Homo sapiens: one gene and its partners. The protein of the gene in region 2 interacts with the protein of the main gene of each other region in a pairwise test. Each region holds a gene or a part of one and is shown on either strand. Other genes may lie near its edges. The genes, in order: SLC47A1, FXYD6, SLC35E3, SLC35E1, ELOVL2, SLC16A7 and SVOP.

The links.
Region 1: the proteins of FXYD6 (region 2) and SLC47A1 interact in binary tests that used the Homo sapiens proteins (3 or more experiments, as listed by UniProt).
Region 3: the proteins of FXYD6 (region 2) and SLC35E3 interact in binary tests that used the Homo sapiens proteins (3 or more experiments, as listed by UniProt).
Region 4: the proteins of FXYD6 (region 2) and SLC35E1 interact in a two-hybrid assay, tested with the Homo sapiens proteins (one large-scale study listed by BioGRID and IntAct).
Region 5: the proteins of FXYD6 (region 2) and ELOVL2 interact in binary tests that used the Homo sapiens proteins (3 or more experiments, as listed by UniProt).
Region 6: the proteins of FXYD6 (region 2) and SLC16A7 interact in binary tests that used the Homo sapiens proteins (3 or more experiments, as listed by UniProt).
Region 7: the proteins of FXYD6 (region 2) and SVOP interact in binary tests that used the Homo sapiens proteins (3 or more experiments, as listed by UniProt).

The regions. Positions count from the first base shown.
Region 1 is NC_000017.11:19,536,854-19,540,353, reverse strand, and holds part of SLC47A1 (multidrug and toxin extrusion protein 1), read right to left. Parts: intron 1-3,500.
Region 2 is NC_000011.10:117,838,659-117,842,158, forward strand, and holds part of FXYD6 (FXYD domain-containing ion transport regulator 6 precursor), read right to left. Parts: intron 3,371-3,500; coding exon 3,332-3,370; intron 3,208-3,331; coding exon 3,133-3,207; intron 2,527-3,132; coding exon 2,490-2,526; intron 1,711-2,489; coding exon 1,661-1,710; intron 1,173-1,660; coding exon 1,144-1,172; coding exon of another isoform or gene 1,123-1,143; intron 1-1,122. Other genes in the region: FXYD6-FXYD2 read-through protein isoform 1 precursor, read right to left, coding at 1,123-1,172, 2,490-2,526, 3,133-3,207, 3,332-3,370. UniProt on the Homo sapiens protein: Associates with and regulates the activity of the sodium/potassium-transporting ATPase (NKA) which catalyzes the hydrolysis of ATP coupled with the exchange of Na(+) and K(+) ions across the plasma membrane.
Region 3 is NC_000012.12:68,752,676-68,756,175, reverse strand, and holds part of SLC35E3 (solute carrier family 35 member E3), read right to left. Parts: intron 1-3,500. UniProt on the Homo sapiens protein: Putative transporter.
Region 4 is NC_000019.10:16,569,616-16,573,633, forward strand, and holds the start of SLC35E1 (solute carrier family 35 member E1), read right to left. Parts: upstream 2,801-4,018; 5' UTR 2,750-2,800; coding exon 2,329-2,749; intron 1,968-2,328; coding exon 1,897-1,967; intron 1-1,896. UniProt on the Homo sapiens protein: Putative transporter.
Region 5 is NC_000006.12:11,037,806-11,041,305, reverse strand, and holds part of ELOVL2 (very long chain fatty acid elongase 2), read left to right. Parts: intron 1-3,500.
Region 6 is NC_000012.12:59,784,529-59,788,028, reverse strand, and holds part of SLC16A7 (monocarboxylate transporter 2), read right to left. Parts: 3' UTR 1-3,500. UniProt on the Homo sapiens protein: Proton-coupled monocarboxylate symporter. Catalyzes the rapid transport across the plasma membrane of monocarboxylates such as L-lactate, pyruvate and ketone bodies, acetoacetate, beta-hydroxybutyrate and acetate.
Region 7 is NC_000012.12:108,907,241-108,910,154, forward strand, and holds the end of SVOP (synaptic vesicle 2-related protein), read right to left. Parts: 3' UTR 501-2,914; downstream 1-500.

The DNA of each region.
Region 1 (3,500 bases), on a different chromosome or scaffold from region 2:
TCTTCTCCTTTCCCACGGAACATCACGTTTACACTCCACAGTTCCCTGCCTCCCTGTGGGCCACCTGTGAGCTGTTTTTCATGGCTTCACATGGAAGTGTGCTCGGTCTCCCCTACTGCCCGGCCTTTGGAGTGCTGCCCAGATCTTACCATCACAAATTGCACTGCCTTGAACATCTTTCTCACTTGGGTGGGGGCCAGTCCAAGGGAATCATTAGATGTCTCGGATACAAAAGGCCAGGAAGTCGAGCTGAGTTAGACTAATCCATGTGAGATGCATCTTCAATGTCAATGCCAGCAAAAATAGTTTTTTTGAGAGCTGCCGCAGCTCTGCCAGGGTTACGGCAACAACCCTGTACTCCGACTGCCTGAGTCGGGCAGCCTCATGCAGTCAGCCCATCCTGAAAGTCCGTGCCAGGGATCTTGGCTTGAGTCCAGATTTACTAACCTCTTCTCAGATCCTGGTTTCAAGCCCTTTGGGTGAACGCTTGGCCATAGACTGTGGATCATGTACATAAGGGCCACCTGGGAGCCTTTGCCCTGGCCCATCGCAAGACCCAGGAGGTTAGGCCAGGCTCAGTGGCTCACGCCTTGTAATCTCAACACTTTGGGAGGCCGAGGCAGGTAGATCACCTGAGGTCAGAAGTTCGAGACCAGTCTGGCCAACATGGTGAAGCCCCATCTCTACTAAAAATACAAAAAATTAGCTGGGTGCAGTGGTGCACACCTGTAATCCCAGCTACTCGGGAGGCTGAGGCAGGAGAATCGTTTGAACCCAGGGGGCAGAGGTTGCAGTGAGCGGAGATCAAGCCACTACACTCCAGCCTGGGTGACAGAGAGAGACTCCATCTCAAAAAAAAAAGACCCAGGAGTTCCCTGGGGCTGAGGAATCTTCATTTCAGTATATCCCCATGCTCCCTCATACACACCAGGCAAGATGCATGTGGTCCAGGGCCACACTTTGAGAGTGCTCCAGACCCTCTGGGACTGTGCTGTCACAGAGCATATTTCTGTGCTCGGGGAATGAACCAATTCTGGACAAAGGCCTGTTCCGCTAGATGTCTCAGCAGCTGCTGTCTGAAGAACAGCCTGAACTGGCAGTGGCTTGGACAGAGCTGAATGGATGACAGAAATTGCCAGACTGGGCCGGGCACGGTGGCTTATCCCTGCAATCGCAGCACTTGGGGAGGCTGAGGCAAGAGGACTGCTTGAGCCCAGGAGTTCAAGACCAGCCCAGGCAACATTTTGTAGAGACCCCGTCTCTACAGAAAATACCAAAAATAGCATGCGTGGTGGCATGCACCTGCAATTCCAGCCACTCAGGAGCCTGAAGCAGGAAGGATCACTTGAGCTCAGCTCACCACTGCATTCCAGCCTGGGTGACACAGCGAGACCCTGCTTCAAACAAAGAAACTTCCAGACTGACCGTGCTTCCGTCCCTTCTTGTCACAGTGACCCTGCTCAGATTTTGGCCAGACAACAATAAGCAAACTTGGCAGTCAGATAAAGACCTTCAGCGCCTGGCAGCTTTAGAAGTTGCTCTCCAGGGCCAGGCACCTCCAGACAGCCTCTCCTACCCCCTCCCATGATTGCTGAAAGTTCACTCACTGGAAAGAAGCTGAGAGGTCACCTGGGACAGCCCCCCTTCTTTTACATGTGAGGAAGCACAGCCCAGGAGGTTTCGCAACTAGCCCAGCCACCTGACTCTCAACTCAGATGGTTACATAAGGCCACTGTCTTTGGAGCACAAAGTACATCCCAGCACTGGGGGAACAGGTGTGAGTTAGACACCATTACTCCATTCCTGCCCCACGGGACCCACAGTACAGATGGTCCTGACTTACAATTTTTCAGCTTTGCAATGGTGCAAAAGCAATGTACATTCAGTAGAAACTGTACTTGGAATTTGGGATATTGATCTTTTCCCCGGATAGTGATGTGTAGTCTCAGACTTGCAGTGCCTGTCAGGGCAGTGGGCCACAGCTGCCCATCAGCCCTGCCATCACGAGAGCAGGCAGCTGACACTCTACAGTGGACTGTGTTGCCAGCGTTTTTTGGGTATTTTGTTTTGTGTTTTTGCATCCCATCATAACTACAAAATGGCCATCTGTGCCTCCTGCTTCTGGGGAAAAGAAGGCAGCTATTACTCTTGCAATGGAACTGAAGATAATTGGCCAGCACGGGGATAGCATGCGTCCCACGCAAGTCAGGACTCTCGCAATCCGTGATCTCATCCTTTAGAGGCATTTTGACTTAATGATATTTTCAGTGCATATAACCCCATCGTAAGCCAAGGAGCATCTGTGGAATAGGGAAAGATGTTCAAAACGCAATAAATAACACAGCTCAAGACATTTGCATGATGAGCTGTGGGGTGCAGCAGAGAATTCAGAGAAGGTTTCTGGGGGAAATGAAGTGGGGCTGAAACCTGCATGATGAACAAGTCAATGTCAAATAGTCAGGTGCTGGAGACTTGTCTGTCGGGGAGGACTTTCCAGGCTGAGGCACTGAAAGGAGGCTGGGTGGAGGGTGTAACCAGGAGATAGGGACGAGAGATGAGGCTGGAGGCCTGGCCAGGGCCAGGCCATAGAGGGCTTTGCAGAACCAAGGAAAGGGTTCTGAGCAGGAGGCACAAGCTCAGATGTGCGTTTGAAAAGGACTTGGTGGCTCCATTTGGAGCATGAGAGCGGAGATACGAAAAAGTGGATCCCTCTGAGAGGTATTTAAGGAGCTAAAGCCAAAGGCCTTGGTGAGGACGGATTGGAGGAGGGAACGGGGAGTAGAGGCGTGGGGGCCGGACCTCACCCGGCTTTCCTCTGTCCAGCTCCTGCCATCTTTGACTACTTCCTCTCACCCTTTGAATGGAAGGAACCACCTTCCCTGTAGGTCTTCCCCTCCTCGGGCCTAGGCCTGTCTGTCTCTGACCAGGCTTCCCCTGCAGAATTTGGTGTCAGTAACCACTTCCTGATCAATATCTTCCCCATTGCCTTCAGGATACAATTCAAAAGATCAGCCTGCATTTTTTCCTTTGTGTGTCCCGGGTAAAGCGGTTCTCTCCAGATCCCCCACCTCACCCCCCTCAACCTGCCTGCCTTCTCTGATATTTCTGCCCTGTAACCCTAGAAGGTCCGCCAGCTCCTTCCCACACAAGTGGAAACATTTCCCTGAGCTGGGGCCTGGGCTATCCCACCTCTGTTACATCCCGGGCAATGCCCGGGGTCCATCTTTGGGGTTACTTTTCAGAACTTTTGCTGTTTTGATTCAGCCAGGTGATGAGAGGCTGATGACCAAGAAGAGGCACAGCTGGAGTACCTGAGGCCAGGTATCTGCACGTTCCCTCCCTTGCAAATCCAGTCTTCCTCAAGCTTTCTCCAGGATAAAATGGACGCATCTTTTGAGAAATAAGCACCATTCGGCTCACATTTCCATTGTGTTATGGGTTACTCTCTTTACAAAGCCCTCATTTAAAGCCCAGTGAGACCTCAAGGGTCAGGGTTAACT
Region 2 (3,500 bases):
ACACCAAGCTACCAGGAAGGGCACCTGCCTCCTAGATCGGAATCTTCGTCCATTCGCACTTAGGTGATCACTTGCCTTCGAGAGCCCCATCCAGAAGACGGGAGTAATGAGCCCTGCTCTGCCCATCACGGGCCGCTATGAGGATGCAAAAGCACTTAGGAAAGAATTTAAATGCTACACAGGCACACGATATTGTTACGCACAGTCAAAGCTGGTGCATCGGGCACTTCATCATCCAGAAACCTCTTTTACCTTACAATGTGAGATAAACTTATATACCTTTCTATAATGCCTTACTTGTATGGGGGGAAAAAAAGGCAGAAGTGAGCTGACAAAACACAAACCTTTTCCCTTAGGATATTCCAGGGCATGTCATAAAGCGAGACGCACAGGACAGAGGGGAGCAGTGGCGCTGAACCACAGCCGCAAAGGCCTGAGTTCACAGTCCGGGCTGTCACTCTCCACGGGGCTATTCCCTCTCATCTTGGTTTCACCTATAAAATGGGCTAAACCCCACCTGTCCCATCCTCTTTTTCTGGCAGACTCGAGTGAGTCTGTGTGTGTGGTGGCACTCTGAAAACTGTACAGCATTTGCCAGTTACTACTCTCCTGTGCCCCCTACGATGAACAATGGAAATAGATACTAAAATCAGTGCCCTTAAATGTGGAGAGGGAAGGATCATATACTATTTGCTCTACTTTTGGTTAGGGTTGGGAAGTTTCATAATAAGGTGTTTAAAAAAACAAGTGGCCCTAAAGTACTTTCTGAGTCACCACGGAAAGCCATTATCTTTATGCTACTTTGAGATTAGGAGCATTTCACTAACTCTAATTCTCCCATGTTGCACTTGGGATGACGCCCTATGCACTCGGCCAGTGGGCTGTGTGGAAGCCCCATTTCCTGGTGTTGGCATGCATGTGTGTGGGACACTTCGGGTGTTTCTAGTCCTGGTCTCTCTCACAGCCCCTTTCAGACTCCTGAAGGCTCCTCAGGGCAGGGCCCATAATAAAAGCTGTGCCCACTGCAAAAGCTAGCCCCATCCTTCCCGCCTGAACCCCTGTCCAGGCCCTGATGCAGACGGTGATGGCAACAGGGGCCAATCCAGGCACTGAGCATCTCACCTTCCACCTGATGGCTGCACTTCAGTTCTCTGCTTTCTGGGGCTCTGTTGCTGGAAAGAAAACCAGAATGGATTATAGTGTATAGACTCCTCACCCCCGTGGGCCACCCCCAACAGCAGCCGTGTCTCTGCCTGACTCTGGGGGAGCAAAGAGGTGACGGGCATGGGATTTCGAGTCAGAACGATCTGGGTTCAATCCTGGCCCTGCTACTTGCTGCTTACAGGAACCTGGTAACCTCTCTCAGTCCCTCGGTTACAAAATGGGGACAATGATGCCTATTTCAGGGCTGTGTGCCCATTAAATGATATGGGGTCTGTGCCTGGCACAAGCAGATGCTCTGTAAATAGCAGGTGACACTAGTAGTAGCCTGTTTGGTGGAGTGAGGGGGCAATGCTGCAGAGGCCCTGGAGACCCACTCTCCTGGCACTGCGGGAGCATGTCTGGCTGGCCATGCACCTGGCAACAGTCCCTTCCTGAGCCACAGAGGGGTCTCTCTGTTCCCTCTTTTCCACCTGGGCAGGTGGTCACGGACAGTTACCATTGGCGGTGATGAGGTTCTCCACCTGGGCTTCCTCATCTCCTGGGGCCCTGCAGGAGAAAGAGACACACAGCCCCATCAGAGATCTCCAGGGCAGACCCAGAGAGCATCGTTCTGCTCCTCACTGGGGCACAGCTGCCTGCAGTCAGGCTCCTCCCAGTGCCCTGAGGGGCTGGAGCTCACTCTGCTGTGGGATGCATGGGACAGAGGGAAAGGTCTGGACTGAAGGGTCAGACTCAGAGGGAACTTACAGGCACCCTTCAATGTCAGCCCTCATGGGAAGGGGAGGCTAGGGCCACATGGGGGCTTGGGTGTGTCCTGCCACACGCTTTGGACTTCTGGGGTCCAAGCTACCCTTGGCTATTATAGTAAACTAATGGGGTATGACCTCTATGTGGGAGTAGAAAGAAGGTCCAAGTGTCTATTCAGCTCAAAGAGCCTCATGAACAGGTGACAAGTGGGGACTGTGTCGCAGGTCCTGTAGAGAGGACCTGGGCATCTAGAGAGGCCAGGAAGCCCTCTGCTTCCCTTCTCCCAAGCTCAACTGTCCCAAGGGCCTCCAGAAAAGGTTCCAGTACTTTCTTGTCCACTCCCCGTCCCCCACATAGATCAGAAGAGACAGGATGGGCTGACCTTCAATGTTTTGACCTCTCCTTTGCCCCAGAGTCTACCTGGCAGTCCTCAAACTTCCAGCCCTACGTCCCAACACACACGTTCTGCCTCCGAGACAAGAATCCAAGAGAATGCCCATTTGGGGGTCACACACCAGGGGTCCCTTCCTGTCCCACCTAGTATCACCCCCCCAAGGCCACTGCCACGGCATCCTTACCGGGGCTTCTGATTGAAACTGCACTTGCACCTGCGACCTGAAAAGCAAAGAAACCATCCAAGGTCATGCTGCTGGCTTGGCCACAGCAGGGCCAAGGGTCTGTGCAGGTTGTGGGACTATGTAAATGGCACCCCCTAGACCTGGGCAGTGCACAGTTTGCACAGCTGCACACAGTGGCCCTCGGATGGGGTAGCTTCTTCTGGGGCAAAGGAAATACATTCTATAGCTGGAATGGCTACACCCCCACAGCCCTCTTGATCATGTGAGTAAAGAGGGATCTGTGCAGATCAGGCTCATGTGGGAACAACAAACTCGGAGGCACATCCCTCGCACACTAGGGCAGCACCTGTCTCCTTCCTCCGTGACTGCCCCATTCATGCCCTATAGACACAGCACTGGGAAGCCACCCTGCTCGTTCCTATCTATGCTCATTGTCATATGACATTTTCTTTGTTCCCGTGTCACTGTTTTACTGAGCACTTACTATGTGCCCAGCACTCTACTGGGTCGTGAAGATAACACGGAGGGCAGGCAGCCTCCTTTCCTCTCCAGGAGAGGGACCAACCAGGCTCTCACACTGTCCCCACCTGCTTAGCAGCCTCAGTCATTGCTCTTAACAGAGTGAGCAAAAGAACAAACTTACTTAGGATAAGGAGGATCCCAACCGAGAAGAGGACCACAGCGAACACCAGTCCCCCAATCCTCAGGGTCTGGTAATCTGCCAAAGGAACCAAGGGTGAGAGAGGAAGGGGCCAGGGAGAGGGTGTCTGTTCCCCCTACCCCTCCTGCCAGGCAGGGCTGCATTCCCCCTGACCCCTGCACCCAGGGTTGCCATCGCTCACCATAATGAAAAGGGTCCATTTCCTTCTCCTTTTCAGCTGCTGCAAAAACAAACAGTTGGTCAAGAGAAAGAAAGCTACACAAACTGGTTCCCAAATATCTAACCTTGCCTCACAGACCTCAGTCTCCACAAAGGAATTCCAGAGGAGCAGGGCCCATTAAACAGAGATG
Region 3 (3,500 bases), on a different chromosome or scaffold from region 2:
ACTTTTGCAAAGTGGAAATATTATCTGATAGATGGTCCAATGACCTCTACTTTAGAAAAAAAGTGTATATGGTAAAATATATAAATTTGAAATAACTACTGGTCTACTTAGGGGAAGCAGAGCGGAGCACTGGAGAACACAGACTTTGGACCCAGAAGGCATGTATCCAAATTGTGTTTCTGCTTATTAGCTGTGGGATTGCGAGCCAGTTACTAACTCTTTATCTCTCGGTTTCCTCATCAGTAAAAATAATAACAATGGTAATATAGTTTGGATGTTTGTTCCCTCCAAATCTCATGTTGAAATTTGATCACCAATGTTGGAAGTGAGGCCTAGTAGAAGGTGTTTGGGTTATGGGGCTGGATCCCTCATGAATGGCTTGGTGCCCTCCCCAGGGTAATGAGTGAGTTCTTGCTCTATTAGTTCTCATGAGAGCTAGCTGTTTAAAAGAGACTGGCATTTCCTCCCCTCTCTCTCTTGCTCCCTCTCTCGCCATGTGACATGCCTGCTCCCCCTTCACCTTCCACCATGACTGTAAGCTTCCTGAGGCCCTCACTAGAAGTAGATGCCAGCACTAATGCTTCTTGTACTGTCTGCAGAACCATAAGCCAAAATAAACCTCTTTTCTTTATAAATTAGTCTCAGGTATGCTTTTATAACATCATAAAATGGACTAATACAAATAGTATTAGTATAGCATCAACCTAATAAAGTTATGAAGATTAAATAAGTTAATATTTACATAGTGCTTTGAATAGTGCTGGGAACAGACTAAGGGCTATATAGGTGCTTGATAAATTGATGCGACCAACAAAAAAGATATTCCCACTGACTGTGTTCCAAGAGTTGTGGGAACTCTTGTGGGAAGCAGGAATTCCTGATAAGTAAGGTATTATGGACTGAATGTTTGTGTCCCCCCAAAATTCCTATGTTGAAATCCTCACCCGCAAGGTGATGGTATTGGGAGGTGGGGCCTTTGGGAGGTGACTATGGCATAAGGGCAGAGCCTTCATGAATGGGATTAGTCCCTATGATAAGAAGAGATACAAGAGAGCTTGCTTCTCCTCTTCCTTGTTGTCAGATGAGGATATGGCAAGAAGACTGCCATCTATAAAGCAGGAAAAGAGCCTTCACCAAGAACCCAACCATACTGGCAGCCTGTTCTCAGACTTCCAGACTTCAGAACTGTGAGAAATGAGTATTTGTTGTTTAAGCCACCCAGTCCATTGTAGTTTTGTTATAGCAGCCTGAACTGACTAAGACATAGGAGGATTATACATTCTAACTTAAAATGTCCCCAACGCATTAGTCCTAGCTGCTTGGGAGGCTGAGGTTGGGGGGATCACTTGAGCTCAGGAGCTTGAGGCCAGCCTGGGCAACATAGCCAGACACTGTCTCTAAAAAATAAAAGTCCCCAAAATACATATGCCCTTGATTTGCCAATTCCACTCCTGGGACTCATTTCCATAGGAAAAAAGTTATCAGTACATGAGAACACATGATGTACAAGGATGTTTATCACAATATTGTTCATAGTGGTAAAGAACTGGGAAAAAAGTGAATATGCAGAGGGGCTATTACACAGACACCGGCTGGGCGCGGCGGCTCACGCCTGTAATCCCAGCACTTTGGGAGGCCGAGGTGGGTGGATCACTTGAGGTCAGGAGGTCAAGACCAGCCTGGCCAACATGGTGAAACCCTGTCTCTATCAAAAATACAAAAAAATTAGCCAGGCATGGTGGCGCACACCTCTAATTCCAGCTACTCGGGAGGCTGAGGCACAAGAATCACTTGAACCCAGGAGGTGGAGGTTGCAGTGAACAGAGATCACGCCACTGCACTATAGCCTGGGTGACAGAGTGAGACTCTGACTCAAAACAAAACAAAACAAAACAAAAACAACAACAACAACAAAATAGACCCTGGAAAGAATGCTTTGGAGAGATTTTTAGGAGATATTATTAAGTCAGAAAAGCAAGATACAGAAAAGCATATGTAATAGGATTCCACTTTTGTCAAAGAAACAGATGTGGCCGGACACGGTGGCTCATGACTGTAATCCCAGCACTTTGGGAGGCCGAGGCGGGTGGGTCACGAGGTCAAGAGATTGAGACCATCCTGGCCAAGATGGTGAAACCCCATCTCTACTGAAAATACAAAAATTAGCTGGGCGTGGTGGTGTGCGCCTATAGTCCCAGCTAGGGTCTGAGGCAGGAGAACCGCTTGAACCCGGGAGGCGGAGTTTGCAGTGAGCCAAGAATTGCACCACTGCACTCCAGCCTGGGCGACAGAGTGAGACTCCATCTCAAAAAAAAGAAAAGAAATAGATGTTTAATTGGGGTGTGTGTGTGTGTGTGTGTGTGTGTATGGATATATACGGCATGGAGAAAAATATGGAAGAACAAGCACTTAGAAAGTTAACATGACTTCAAGGGGCACGGATTAGGGGGTAATGGAATGTGGAAGATTAGGGGGTAATGGAATGTGGAAGAGTGTGTGGCTAGGAAGGCTGGGGAAAAGGAATCTGCAATAAAAACAGCATCTATGATATCATTCCATATCTAAAATTATACACACATGCATGTGTACCTATGTGTTTATACAAAAGAGATCCATGAAATGATCCTCACCAAAATGGTAAAGGTAATTACCTTAGTGTGATAGGGTTCCAGAGGCCCTTCACTTTCTTTTGTTGTTGTTGTTTTGGTTTGGTTTTTTTTTTTGAGACAGGGTCTCACTCTGTTGCCCAGGCTGAAATGCAGTGGTGCTATCTTGGCTCACTGCAGCCTCGACCTCCTGGGCTCAAGTGATCCTCCCACCCCAGCCTCCCAAGTAGCTGGGACTGCAGGCATGTGCCACCATGCCTGGCTTTTTTATTTATTTATTTTTTTTCTGAGACAGAGTCTTGCTCTGTGGCCCAGGCTGGAGTGCAGTGGCACAATCTTGGCTCATTGCAACCTCCACCTCCCAGGTTCAAGCAAATCTCATGCCTCAGCTTCCTGAGTAGCTGGGATTACAGGAAGCATGCCATCACACTTAGCTAATTCTTTTTTTTTTTTTTTTTGAGACAGGTGTGATCCCAGCTCACTGCACCTCCACCTCACGGGTTCAAGTGATTTTTGTGCCTCAGCCTCCTTGAGTAGCTGGGATTATAGGTGTGTGCCACCACGCCTGGCTTATTTTTGTATTTTTAGTAGAGACGGGGTTTTGCCATGTTGGCCAGGCTGGTCTTGAACTCCTGACCTCAGGTGATTTGCCTGCCTTGGTCTCCCAAAGTGCTGGGATTACAGGCATGAGCCACCGCACCCAGCCTCAGCTAATTTTTTTGTATTTTTAGTAGAGAATGGGTTTCGCCATGTTGGCCAGGCTGGTCTTGAACTCCTGACAAGTGATCCACCCGCCTCAGCCTCCCAAATTCCCAGGATTACAGGCATGAGCCACCACACCCTGCCCATTTCTTAATTTTTTGTAGAGATGAGGTCTTCCTATGTTGCCCAGGC
Region 4 (4,018 bases), on a different chromosome or scaffold from region 2:
AGGGCAGATCACTTGAAGTCAGGAGTTTGAGACCAGCCTGGCCAACATGGTAAAACCCTGTCTGTATTGAAAATACAAAAATTAGCCAGGAGTGATGGAACGCGCCTGCAATCCCGGCTACTCGGGAGGCTGAGGCAAGAATCGCTTGAACCCAGGAGGCGGAGCTTGCAGTAAGCTGAGATCGCACCACGGCACTCCAATCTGGGCAACAGAGGGAGACTCCGTCTCAGAAAAACAAACACTCTTAAGGAGAGATAGGAGAGGTGGAGATTTTAGGAGGGAGTGGTCATGCCACAAGGAGGGCAGACCGAGGGCTGTGGACCTGAATTCCAGCTTCCCGAATATCAGGCTGTGGCCCTCAGGCACATGATTCTCCCCTCTCAGTCCATCTCAGGAAAACCTGAGATCAGGAATGATGACTACTGGCCTTATCTGCCTTGCAGGGCAGGTTCCTAGAAGTTATGATGTCATTATAATTAGTCTGGCTGCCTAACCGGGCCAATTCCCAGTCTTTCCTCACTGTGTGAAGTTCCGGCTCCTTGCCCAAGCTGGGTACAATGTCCCGTACAACGGGGAAACCTGATACACACGATGATATCCGGTGATGCAGCTACACACCTCAGGGACAACTCTGACTTCTCAGGAGCCAAGTCACAGCCTGACATCACCCTGGGGGAGCAGGGCTACAGAGCACACACAGGTCTTGCTGAGACAAAGACAGGCAGGAATAAAAAAAAATCAGCCATAGGTGGCCCAATTTCTATAAGCCGATCCAGGGCACTACCTCTCTGAGTTACATAAAATACAACATGCCAGAAACCAACCACTTGGAAAAGAGGCACGGTGTCCAGCATCAGCATGAAATGGATTCCGGCTGAGACAACAAGCGCCCAACTTCCACTTAAGAATACGGGATAAAGCTGTCTCCGGCTAAAGCCATGGCTATTCTTGCCCCAAGCCAGGAAATACCCTGGCTTGGCATCTTGAACAGAATTTGGACTGTGCCCAAAGCATCCTCCTTATGCAGCCCTGAGTCCTGTGTGCCACTTTCGCTTCCGTTCCCAGACCATCACAACTTCTGGCTGTTTTAATTTCTAAGACTTTGCTGGATTTTGCCAAGATCGAACTCCTTGGATCGCGTCTGGCTTCTGATCCCAGAGGTCCCCTGACAGAAATCTCTTGTCAAGAAGTGAAAACCTAGCCAAGTGCAGTGGCTGACGCCTGTAATACCAGCACTTTGGGAGGCTGAGGCGGACGGATCACTTGAGGTCAGGAGTTTGAGACCAGCCTGGCAACATGGTGAAACCCTGTCTCTATTAAAAATACAAAAAAATTAGCCAGGTGTGGTAGTGCACGTCTGTAGTCCCAACTACTTGAGAGGCTGAGGCAGGAGAACTGCTTGAACCTGGGAGGCGGAGGTTGCAGTGAGCTGAGATTGTGTCACTGGACTTCAGGCTGGGCAAGAGTAAAACTCCGTCTCAAAAAAAAAAAAAAAAAAGTGAACACCTAACCGACAGCGTTCTGATCCATCCATCCCTAGTCCCACTGGAAAGGCCACACATGGGGTGTATGGCCAAGATGTGACCAACCCATCACCTACCAGCAAACCCAGGTAGGGAATCAAAACGGGGAGGAAAATTGGATCTGAAAGGGACAACAGTGTTCCTAAGACCACACAGCAGAGATCACAGAGGGACACATACTCCACACACCACTGCTCACAGGGTGATTCTAGAACTTGAGTAGTAAAAGGCCACTGGAGACCTCTACACTGACTTCCCTATTTGACGGGAAGCCAGGCAGCCTGCAGACCAGGATCCTGACCACGTCACCAGTTGGCAACAGGGAGGAACCCCCTGGAGCTCCCATCTGCCCAGAGTCCCTGCCCGGGGTTACCTTGGTGCTCTGCTTCTCCTTCATAATGATCCGGGACAGGAGGACCACCCAGATGGGCATGGTGGCCTTGACTGCAAAGAGAGGGATGGGCACTCAGGGGGCTGCCTGAATTTCAGGGCCCAACCTGTTCCACCTCCACGGCGGGATGGGAGGGCCTGGCAGCCCCTCACACCTCTTCGCCCCTTCTCTTTCGGTAGGGCTTCCTCCTGCCACGGCTGTTGTGGTCTGTCCTGCTTACCTCTCAGCTCTCTTCTCAGCTCCTCTTCTCCCTGAGAACCCCGTGCGTGTCCCTCCCCTACCAAACCCTTGGCAGCCCCTCTGCTGACTTCTCAGTCCGGCGGGACGCGCCCCGGGCGGCGCACTCCTATCCATGCGCCCAAACCCGAAGCGGCGGGCCCGGCCGCCGCCCCCGAGGCCGGGCGCGGAACCTACCGGTGTGTGCATAGGACACGGGCACCTTCCAGATGCTGACGTGCGCTGACACGGACGCGAAGTACTTGCCGAAGGCGAGCGGTAGCACGTAGCGCGGGTAGAAGCGCGGCGGCAGCAGCGGGCCGGACGACGGATGCGGACTGGGTCCGGGGCCCGAGACGGGCGGCGCGGGGGGCACGCGCCAGGCGCGCAGCAGCGGCGGGAGCCCAGCGCACAGAGCCAGGATGTGGCACAGCGACACGGTCACCGGGAACGGGAAGGCGCTCAGGATCACCTTGTTGACCACGTTGCCGCCCGCGCTCAGCGCGTACCACAGCAGGCACAGCGCCGCCACCCGCGCGCCCTCGCGCGCCCCACCACTGCTGCTCGCTGCGCCCGGGCCCCCCGCGCCGTGGCCCGCGCCCACCGCGGCCGCCGCCATCCTGCCCGAGCGGCCGCCCCTTCCAGCCCGTCCGACGGCCCGACGCCGGGCGGGGGCGGGGCTGGGCGGGGGGGCAGGCGCCCCGGTCTACGCCGTTTCCCATTGGTCGCTGCCTCCTCGCGTCATCCCTCCGCGCCGGCCGACGCGCCAGCCACCACGTCTCGAGTGCAGGCCCAGTCCACTGTAGATGCGCTTCCGGCGGAGCCGAGGCCGGAAGCGGAAGAAGGGGACACAGACCTGCGTCCAAGCTGTGCCACCTGAGACGTGGGCGGTCCCAGTGACCGGGAGCCGGAGCTCGAACGGGACGGGCGAACAGAAGCGCGGAGGGCTTCGCAGCGTCGGCGTCTGTGCGTGGGCCAAACATCAGGGCCTCGACCAGGGATACAAGGGCAACCGCTAACTAGATTCCTGATTCCTGATGGCTGGCGGCGGCTGACACCAAAGGTAAAAGGCCTTTTAGGGAAAGAAACCATTTGTGAAAAGCTCTTGGGCTAAACTCGCTCTGCAAACTGGGGGCGCACGCTCGTGGCCAAACTCTGGCAGTGGGACTATCCCGGAGCACCCGATCCCTGGAATCATGTTCTGGAAACCACCGCGACGTGCGCAGTTCTCGGGCGTGGCCCTGGTATCATCCCACTGAATCCTAGGAACGCGGTGCGGTAGGTATCACTGTCCGCATTTCACAGACCGAAGTCCAGAATGGGGAAGCGACTTGTCTTAGGCTTCCTGGCCACACTGGGGACCGTGGTCATGGTAGCGTCCTTGGACACCTGTCTCCAAGGCTCTGCAGAAGGGGGAGGTGCCGGGCCCTGACGGCTGATGTCCAAGGACCAGCCGGGATGGACCAGCCCCAGGAGGCCCCAGTGGAGGAAAACAGGACGAGGTTTTCAGTAAGATGATCTTATACTAATTCAAGGGCTATAATTTGTTCTCCACATCGTGTGCCTCCAACTTTTTCGGGGAAAGGGTGTTAAAATTCCGTTACAGTGTTTTTACTTGTCAAATTAGAAGCAGCAACCGGCTGGGTGCAGTGAGTCAAGCTTGGAATCCCAGCACTTTGGGAGGCCAAGGTGGGCGGATTGCTTGAGCTCAGGAGTTGGAGATCGTGGCATCGATAACATGGCAGAACCTCATCTTTGCAAAAAATACAAAAATTAGCCAGGCGTGGTGGCGCACGCCTGTGGTACCCACTACTAGGGAGACTGAGGTGGGTGGATCGGCTTGAGCCCAGGTCAAGGTTCCAGTGAGCTATGATGGCGCCACTGCACT
Region 5 (3,500 bases), on a different chromosome or scaffold from region 2:
TGTCAAGTAGATATTATGTATCTAGTTATGTTCAGAAAACAGGGCCCTGCTATTCAGGGTTAGGTGGATGATCGTCTGGGTTGGACAGTTGGATATGTATCATCTAACTTGACAGGTTTGCATTTCTGGGAGTAGACATTGATAAGGGGAAAGAAGTTGCACCAGAAACTTCTTTAATGGCCCAATGTGGTGAAAATACGCCAGCATCAGTAGCTCATAGTAATTCTACAGTTACAGATTCACGCATTTGTAGCTTTTCTTCTTAATTGAATTGGGACATAACTGACTTTGACAATGAACAATTCTAATAAATAGTTAATTTATGACATTTTAAATCTAACCATTTAATAATTGGAGAGCATAACTTGTTCTGAAATTTATGTGACAGTTTAGAACCTGAGATCTGAGGTCATTCGTGGGCTTGAATCCTGACACCAGCATTTAACTGTGTGACCTTGGGCTTCAGTATTTTATCCTGTAAAAGATGATAATATTTCATAAGGTTTTCGGGAGGAACAAATATGATGGTGCCCTTTATGTGTCTAAAACAGTGCTTGGAGTGCTTAGTAAATATTAACTATTATAATGATGTGTGTTCTTTTTTCTCCCATATCTATTTTAGTTGAGACACTTCAGAATGATGTCTCTGTCCCTTTTGTGGTCTTAATATACAACTAATATTGCTGTCCAATAGAAATATAACATAAATCGCATATGTAATTTTCAGTTTTCTACTAATCATATTTAAAAAGTACAGAGACAAGTGAAATTAGTTTTAATAATGTTATTTAACCCAATCCATGCAAATATTTCAACATGTAATCAATGCAGAAAAAGATTTTTCCATTGTTTTTTTTCATAGAAAATCTTCAAAATCTAGTGTGTATTTTATGCTTAGAGTGCATCTCAGTTCAGGCTAGCCGTATTTCAGCGGCTCAGTGGCCACCTGTGGTTAGAGGCTACCGTATTGGACAAAGAGCTCTAGATTGTACACAACTTCCAAGTTTACCTCTTAAAGCTCTTACACCCTTTCCACTAGTGAGAACCTCACTGCCACCTTAAACCCAGCATTACAAAAAGAAAGCTACTCATCTTTCAGACTCTCTTCTCTGTTCTCTTTTGCTGTTAGTAATTCCACCAGCTCTTCAGTCTACTGTGTCTGAAATCTGATTCTTATTCTCTTTTTTATTTTATATTGTTTGTTGTCTAATATTCTCATATTTTTACTTGAAAATATTTCAAAATCTCTTTCCTCCACCCCTTGAGCCCCCTTTCCACCATTTTTGCCTTTTCTACAGATCTCCTCTTTTGTAGACTCTTTGTTTTAACTTTTTTACTTCCTGTCTCTTGGAAAATGTATATCTCTCGCTGAATCACTGGGCTCCACATTCTCTCCATTCCTTCCTCAGCCCTTTTTCATGTTGTCAGAAATGGTTTCTATTTTATAGGTTATTCCTACCCTTAATACCTTTCCTTTGTCAAATATCCAGAGAAGTATAATTACTTTCACAGATAGTCTGATAGTAAAATGATCCACTCAAGAAAAGAAGCACAGATAAAGGAGAAAAATAAGCTAGGGGAAGGGAAGATGAAATCATTCTTTGAGTTTTATTTTCCTTTCAGGAAATATCAGAGGGAATCGATTCTAGTAGTCTGTAGTACAGTAGAGAAATTATATGACTATTTATTTTATGTTTCAAAATAGCTAGATGAGAATTGTAATATTTCTAACATAAGAAAAGATAAATGTTTGAAGTGATAGATATTCCAGTTACCCTAACTTGATCATTACATTGTATACATGTACCAAAACATCACATGTACCCTGGGAATATGTACAACTATGATGCATAAATTAAAAAATAGTAACAGAGAAATATCATGGAACTGATTAATAATCACAATCACCACCACCACCACAATAGCAATGAAACTTGATGTTTATGCAGTGCTTTCTAAGAAACAGGGCACCTTCCTGTGTGCCTGGTGAACAGAGGGAGAAAACGAAAGGCACTGGACCAAGAGTCAAGAAACCTGGGTTCTAGCCCTAGCTTTATTGTTTACTAGCTCCATTCCCTTGCTTAAGTTGCTTTGAGACACTGTTTACTCACTTGCTAAATGGTGTATTATCTCTGTCACAAGATTGTTTTGTTAGAATCAAATGGGGCCTCAGCATCTTTACATTGGCTGCCCTTTGGCTGTATACATCTTTCCCCCAGAGAGCTTTATGTCTGTCTGCTTAATACTTTCATGATTAGACCTACCCTAACCACTCTACTAAAACTGGAACCTGCCTTACCATATGTCACACACCATATTCACACACACAGTTGGATATGTACCACACCTGATCCTCTTACACTGCTTTATTTTTTTTCCACAGCACTTAAAACTAGCAGTTTGCTAATTTACATAGCACTTGGAACCATTTAATCATTAATCTCTTGATAAATTTAAAATTATTTAATTATCACAATTCAGTTTGAGCATGTTTCAGTAATACAGCTGCTTCATCAATACACATTTGCCTGTGTAACCTTTTAGTAAATGATAATATGTATTCCTACAGCATATTTACACTTCATAGTCATATTTGTGGAAAGGGCCAGGTTATGTCATTTTTAAATAATTTAATCCATATTTCATCATAAGTTTTTAATGAAATTAAAATGCATATGTATTTCTATTTTTAGATAAATCTATACTTATAGCATTAAGTTCTTGCTGAAATTAAAAATGATTATCTTAAAATATAAACAAAGCTATGATATATGGATTTGCTGAGTAATTTTATTTTTATTTTTATTTATTTATTTATTTATTTTTGAGCTGGAGTCTTGCCCCATCACCAGGCTGGAGTGCAGTAGCGCAATCTTGGCTCACTGCAACCTCTGACTCCAGGGTTCAAGCGATTCTCCTGCCTCAGCCTCCCGAGTAGCTGGGACTACAGGCGCACACCATGCTGAATAAATAATTATTTTTACTTTACATATATGTGTGGCCTTTAGTTAGCATAACTTAAATATGATTCAAGTACTGTATAATAATACTATTTTACATTTATTAATCAGTTGAATGTTTTTCAATGCATTTTAATCCACCTTAACTCTTTCTGAAGCCTCACAAAAAAACTTTTGTGAGAGGCAAGTCCTGTAGCAACATACCTACTTTACAGTTTCAAAGAAGATAAATAATTTGCCCAAGGTCACATACTAGAGGTAGCAAAACCAGCTCTAAATATTCTCAATCCAAAATAACCACCTCTTCTGCTATTCCATATAGCCTTAGCCTTTGAGAAAGGCAGTAGTACTTTTCCCCATTATTACATATGAAAATGGAAAAATCAGAGTGACTTCCCCATGTAGTTTCTTTCCCATAAATTACAGGGATGGATAGATAGATATGGATATATACATATATTGCATATATACACTTAAACATATTAAATATATAAAGTCTTAAGTTTCATTTCATATATACAGAAAATGGAACCTGCAAAG
Region 6 (3,500 bases), on a different chromosome or scaffold from region 2:
GGAGAAGAACTTTTACATAAAAAGCTTCAAATTTAGTCAGTTGTAGCAAGCACTTGAAAAGACCCTGCTCTTTCATCTGCAATATCAGGAATTACTATATCTGACTCATATTTGATTAAGTTACAATCTCATTTTTGTTGTCACTACAAAGAAGGATCCTTATATTAGTAAATGCACTCACTGCAACTACTGAGGCCTGCCTCCTGTCAGAATGACAATGCAGTCTTAGCATACGGGTGTCGGTTTGGCTGAATCTAACCAAACACATCACGTACTACAGATGTTTTTAGGGCCCACCCAATTCATAAAAGATTTTACTGCGATACATGAGTTTACCCAAATTTTTATTAAAATGTGTTTTTAGGGTAAATATCTTGATGAACTAGGCAAACAAATACTGAATGCAGATTACTGTTTTTACAGTTTTACCGGGAAAACTCCTAATAGCAACCCCTCTTCCCCTTCACCACAGATCTTTAATTTAGGTGTGATTTTTGTTTGTTCTCTACATGGGAATAAAGGAGAAAGTTTAGAAAGACTGTATCTAGCTAGATAAGATGCAGAGGTAGATGGAATCTCTAACATAAAAGAAGCTCTAATTACACTGTTGCCAGACAGCTGTTATGGATTTTAGTATTGTTTATTAGGTGAAGAAAACATTCATAAAATAAGAAATTTTTGAGATAGAACTTACTCTAATAATTTCATTAACATATGTTCAGGTTCTTAGATCAAGAAATACTGTAGAGGTGTTCTCCTCAAGACTATGCTATGGCAATAATTTCTTGCATACAATTTAATAATTTAAACTTGAACTGTGTGTTCTGTGCTCTGGCGTTCTACTTCAGAAAAAAATGAACACTGCTTCTAAAATAAAAAGGAACATAAAATAAAAAAGGAATTAATGAGATATTGACATGTTTTCTATTAATACAATATTGATGTTTTAAATGATTTTGATATTGCTATAACAACATATATTGTGCAAAATAATTAATCTCACTAAATATTATTTCTGATTTGCCACGAATTATCTGCCGTGGCAATCAGGAAATAGTCTTCAAAGTAAGTTTGCAAACATGATTTTGCAAACCATGATTGGAAAAATATATTCATTTGGGCTATAAACTATCAAGTAGGGTTGTTATATATATTTCTAGGAAAATATTTTATTTACTCTACAAAGATCATCATTATGACCTTACGGCTTCTGTAGTGCAATGGAGAAAAAAGTGTGTTAGAAGTTAAAAGACCTGAATTCTATCTCCAACCCTGCATTTATTCAGAGTATTGGTATAGGTTTAGGCAAAATCCTTAATCCAGTCTAGTTTTATATGGTAAAAATGTGGATACCTATCAAAACTGAGGGTTGAGAGGATGAAATGAATTCATTAAACATATCTTCTGAGACATAAATATATCAAAACAAATCAAAATACAATTAGATCTAATGTTTAGAAATAAATATTTTAATTCATATTTGCTATTTCACTAAATCTAGAAATACTAATGCTTTAGTTAAATATAGAAAGTTGATGATAGAAAAATAAAATCCATCGTACCATTGAAAAGCTTGTCAGAAATATGTACTCTTGAGATTCGGAGGATGAGAAAAAAAATGTGTACTCTAACGAGGAAGCTATATAAACTGAGTCTAACTCAAAACATTTATTTTAGATGCATATAAGAATTAAAGTCTTAGTCAAAAGAATGTTTTAAAATTTCATCCTAAATTTATGTGAGATAAAATGCCATTCTTTTGTTTTTCTGAACAGAGGAGCTTTTATCAACTTATTCTATTTTATTTTTATTTTTATTATTTTATTTTATTTTATTTATTATTATTATACTTTAAGTTTTAGGGTACATGTGCACAATGTGCAGGTTAGTTACATATGTATACATGTGCCATGCTGGTGCGCTGCACCCACTAACTCGTCACCTAGCATTAGGTATATCTCCCAATGCTATCCCTCCCCCCTCCCCCGACCCCACCACAGTCCCCAGAGTGTGATGTTCCCCTTCCTGTGTCCATGTGTTCTCATTGTTCAGTTCCCACCTATGAGTGAGAATATGCGGTGTTTGGTTTTTTGTTCTTGCGATAGTTTACTGAGAATGATGATTTCTAATTTCATCCATGTCCCTACACGAACTTATTCTATTTTAATAGAATGTTCAGTATCAGTGTTTTCACACTGAGATTCTCTAGCTTATTTTGCCATATTTAAATTAAAAAGAAACAAAAAATCCTGTTTGATCATGTGAAAAATATTTACTGAAATGTGAATAAATTTATGATCATTAATTGCCTACTGAAATATTCCTGAATATTGCTCACCTTATTAACAAGTATATATGGAGACTGAAAAACATGTAGATCATGCAAACAAGTGTAACTAACTATACCAAAGAAACAAAAGTCCATACTAAATATGTCCATAATTAAATAAAAAATGCTAAACAAGTTTTACCTAGATATTATAAAAACATAGAAAGGAAAACATTTAGGAGATGATGAAGAAGCAGGAGATTGGGATGGGAGATGTAATTTGATCTAAATTCCCATATGCTTCTGTAAAATCAAAAATTCATTTTGCAATATTAATTTTGCTCTTAAGGTAGAGACTTTTAAAATGACCATTCTCAATACTACAGCAATTCTTCCCTGATTTGCACATAAATGAATTAAAGTGAAGAAAAAGCAGTAGAGGAGAGAAGACTAAAATAAACCAGATTGTAGCACCCTGTAAAGAGCTAAAATCTCCAGTGTACAAACAACTGATAGGAAAGAAGAGAAAATCAGAACTATAAAAAAGTGACATAAGCTCAGAAAATTACTCATTTTTAATTGTATCAACAAAGATAATTTGTAATTTTGATCATGCAAGCATTATAATTACTGATAATTGGGCCTTTCAGCTTTTAAGTGCCTTCTCAAACATGAGTTCTGCATATGGTTGTGCAGAAATCAAAATCTTAAAGAGAGATGAGTAAAGTCAAGTTTGTAATATTAATCTTATATTCTCAATATAGATGCTAATTAGTGCTCTGAATGGTTGTGGTTAGAAATCTTGTTGGTATGATGTATCAGTGATGTCACTGCATTGATGGAGACAGAATAATACATAATGGTGCAATGTGGTGATGGTAAGCTTTGTTACTCAATATTGTCAGGCACTTTAAGAAAATCAGAAACATTCAGGATAGTGCCAAAGAAGATCAGTTTTTCAAGACTCTAAAATCATATTCAATTATATGTGTATGTAATTATAAATATGTGCATCATGGCTGACTTTGAGAAGAATGCAGCGCCTTGCAAGTGCACTATTTGAATAGAGCTAAGGAGAACTATAGTCTAAGGACTGCAAAAGTCTAGATGGAGAAGACAAAAGCAATGACACTTGTTTTCTCTACAGAACAAATAGACAAAGAGGTGAATGACAACAAAGATGTTCAGAGAAACTTGAAAAATAAGCTACGGTGTAGGGTAAGTTGTATTA
Region 7 (2,914 bases), on a different chromosome or scaffold from region 2:
TTCCTCTTCCTCCTCCTCCTCCTTCCTTCTCCTCCTCTTCCTTCTTCTTTTATTTTTCTTGAGCCAGAGTCTCACTCTGTTACCCAGGCTGGAGTGCAGTGGCATGGTCACAGCTCACTACAGCCTCGACTTCCCAGGCTCAGGTGATTCTCCCACCTCAGCCTCCAAGTAGCTGGGACCACAGGAGCACACCACCAGGCTTGGCTAATTTTTGTATTCTTTTTGGAGTCAGGGTTTTGTCATGTTGCCCAGGCTGGTCTCAAACTTCTGGGCTCAGGCGATCCTCCCGTCTGGCCTCCTAAGTGCTGGGATTACAGTCATGAGCCACCACACCTGGCTTGTTTTGTTTTGTTTTGTTTTGTTTTTTAAGAGACAGGATCTGTCATTCTATCATTCAGGCTGGAATGCTGTGGCACGATCAAAGCGAACTGCCGCCTCAAACTCCTGGCCTCAAGTGATCCTCCCGCATCAGCCTCCCAAAGTGCTGGGATTATGGGCATGAGCCACTGCACCCAGCCAGGACCATGTCTTATGATATTTTGCATCCTCAGTGTTGAATAACATGTCCAGGACATGCTGGATATTCCATGCATACTGACCACTTGCCACGTTATGATCTGTAAGAGAGTTCTGATGAATAGACTTGAGAGTTTATGCACATGTCACTGCAGATTCCAGGCATACCAGCAATTGTCTGCACCACCCTGCTAAAGGGCAGGCCAATGCCACCGTGTCTGTACCTCTCCACCACTTCTTCCTGACCCAATTGAATTGGACCAAGACTCAATCCAACACTAAACTGGGCCAATCAGCTTCATTCCTGAAGATCTGGGAGTGGGGCACTGAGCAGCTGAGTCAGGTATGTTTGCAGAGCTGGGTTATGAGGCTATGGAAGCTCTGTGCATGATTATGCATACACAGCAGCCACAAGGAAACAGATGGAAGCTAGACTCATTTCTGCCAGAAAAGGGAAGAAACAAGAGCCACAGATTCAGAGGGGCAGCTGTCTTGGGCCCCAGTGGTTTCCCAGATCCCTGTTCCTCTGAATGACACCAGGCTGTACTTTATTCCTATGCAATCTCTCTAAACTGTCAGAGTGAACCATCAGCCCATCAACCAAAGCTGCACTGCAGATGCATTTTATTGAGCTCACACATCATTTGAACATTTTTGATCCAATATACTAATATTTGGAGATTTCACAGAAAAACCTAGACTCCTCTTTTGAACATTGTAAGATCTGGTCACACTGGACCCATGGTGGAACAACATCAGCTGGAAGGGAGTTGCAGCCCCCCCCTGCAGACAGGGCTGGTGTTTCTCTTGTCCTTACACCTTTTCCATTTCACTGATTTACATGCCCTGAATTTCCCCTGTAGGAAATTAACTACCGATCCCAGTCTTATAATAAAGCTCTGTTCCTTAATTTTAATTATCCTGAGTAGAATTTCTGTTCCTGGCCACGAAAACAGTGCTGATGAGAGCTCTGTGGCCTACACATCCACGGCAGGCTCCTTGCAACCATCGCCCATCCAACAGCCATTGCTATCCTTCTTCTGTGCTAACAGAATCCCAATTTTGTGTTCAGGAGGCTGTGGGTATCCCTTGGTGCTCGTAGGCCCTTCCTTCCAGCCCTACAGCAGGACTCATGCTGGGATGGGCATGACACCCAGGTCTGATCAATGAGAAGCAATGGTAAATCTGCCAGGGGACTTCCTTTTCTAACCAAAACCAACAGACTCTTCTGAAAGAAAACCTTTTATGACTGCTCCTTTCCCATTCTACCTTCTTTGAAAAGAAATATGATGTCCAGCACAGGGGCAGCCATTTTGTGACCATGAGGTTTCAAGCACAGGGTCAGATGGCCAACATGCAGAGGATGGTGAAAAGAAAAGGCAAAAAGAAGCTGGGTTCTTGATAACATTGTTGAGCGTTGAACCTTCTCTGATCTCTGCCTGGTTTTGGTTCTAATGGTTTAAGCCACTATTGACTGAGATTACTGTTCTTAGGTTGGTGCAAAAGTAATTGCATTTGGGAGGCCAAGGTGGGCGGATCACTTGAGGTCAGGAGTTTGAGACCAGCCTGACCAACATGGTGAAACCTTGTCTATACTAAAAATACAAAAATTAGCCAAGCATCAAGGCGGGCACCTGTAATCCCAGCTACTCAGGAGGCTGAGGAGGGAGAATCGCTTGAACCTGGGAGACAGAGTTGCAGTGAGCTGAGACTTCATCTCAAAAAAAAAAAAAAAGTAATTGCAGTTTTTGCCATTGAAAATAATGGCAGGGGAGACTCTTGATCTTATCATTCAAGGCTTTCTGTTGCTCAATGTTATATTAAAAACAATGAATTTCCATACTAATTTCAAAGTCAATTCCTAAGATACTGTTTCATCCCATTGTGAACACCACCAAGGTCAGTTATATGTTTTTCAGAATACTTGAAGTACGAGAAAAACAGAAATATATAGCTCTGGCTACATTAAATATCTTTTGCCACTTTCTGAGATCTTTCGTAACTCTAAGAGAAACATGGCATTTCCATTAACGAAAATAGGAGCTTTTTGAATAGGATTGTTCAAAATTAGATACAAATGTTCTCAGCTAAAGGTCTCACATATTCAGAAGTTTGGGTGCCTTTTGTGATAGCTCTTGTATCATTTGATAATATTGATTTTTTTGAAAAAGGCAGGCTATTTACAAGGCAAAGAGTTTTTGTTTTGTTTTGTTTTGTTTTTGAGATGGAGTCTTGCTCTGTCGCCCAGGCTGGAGTGCAGTGGCGCGATCTCGGCTCACTGCAAGCTCTGCCTCCTGGGTTCACGCCATTCTCCGGCCTCAGCCTCCTGAGTAGCTGGGACTACAGGCACCCGCCACCACACCTGGCTAATTTTTTTTTGTATTTTTAGTAGAGACGG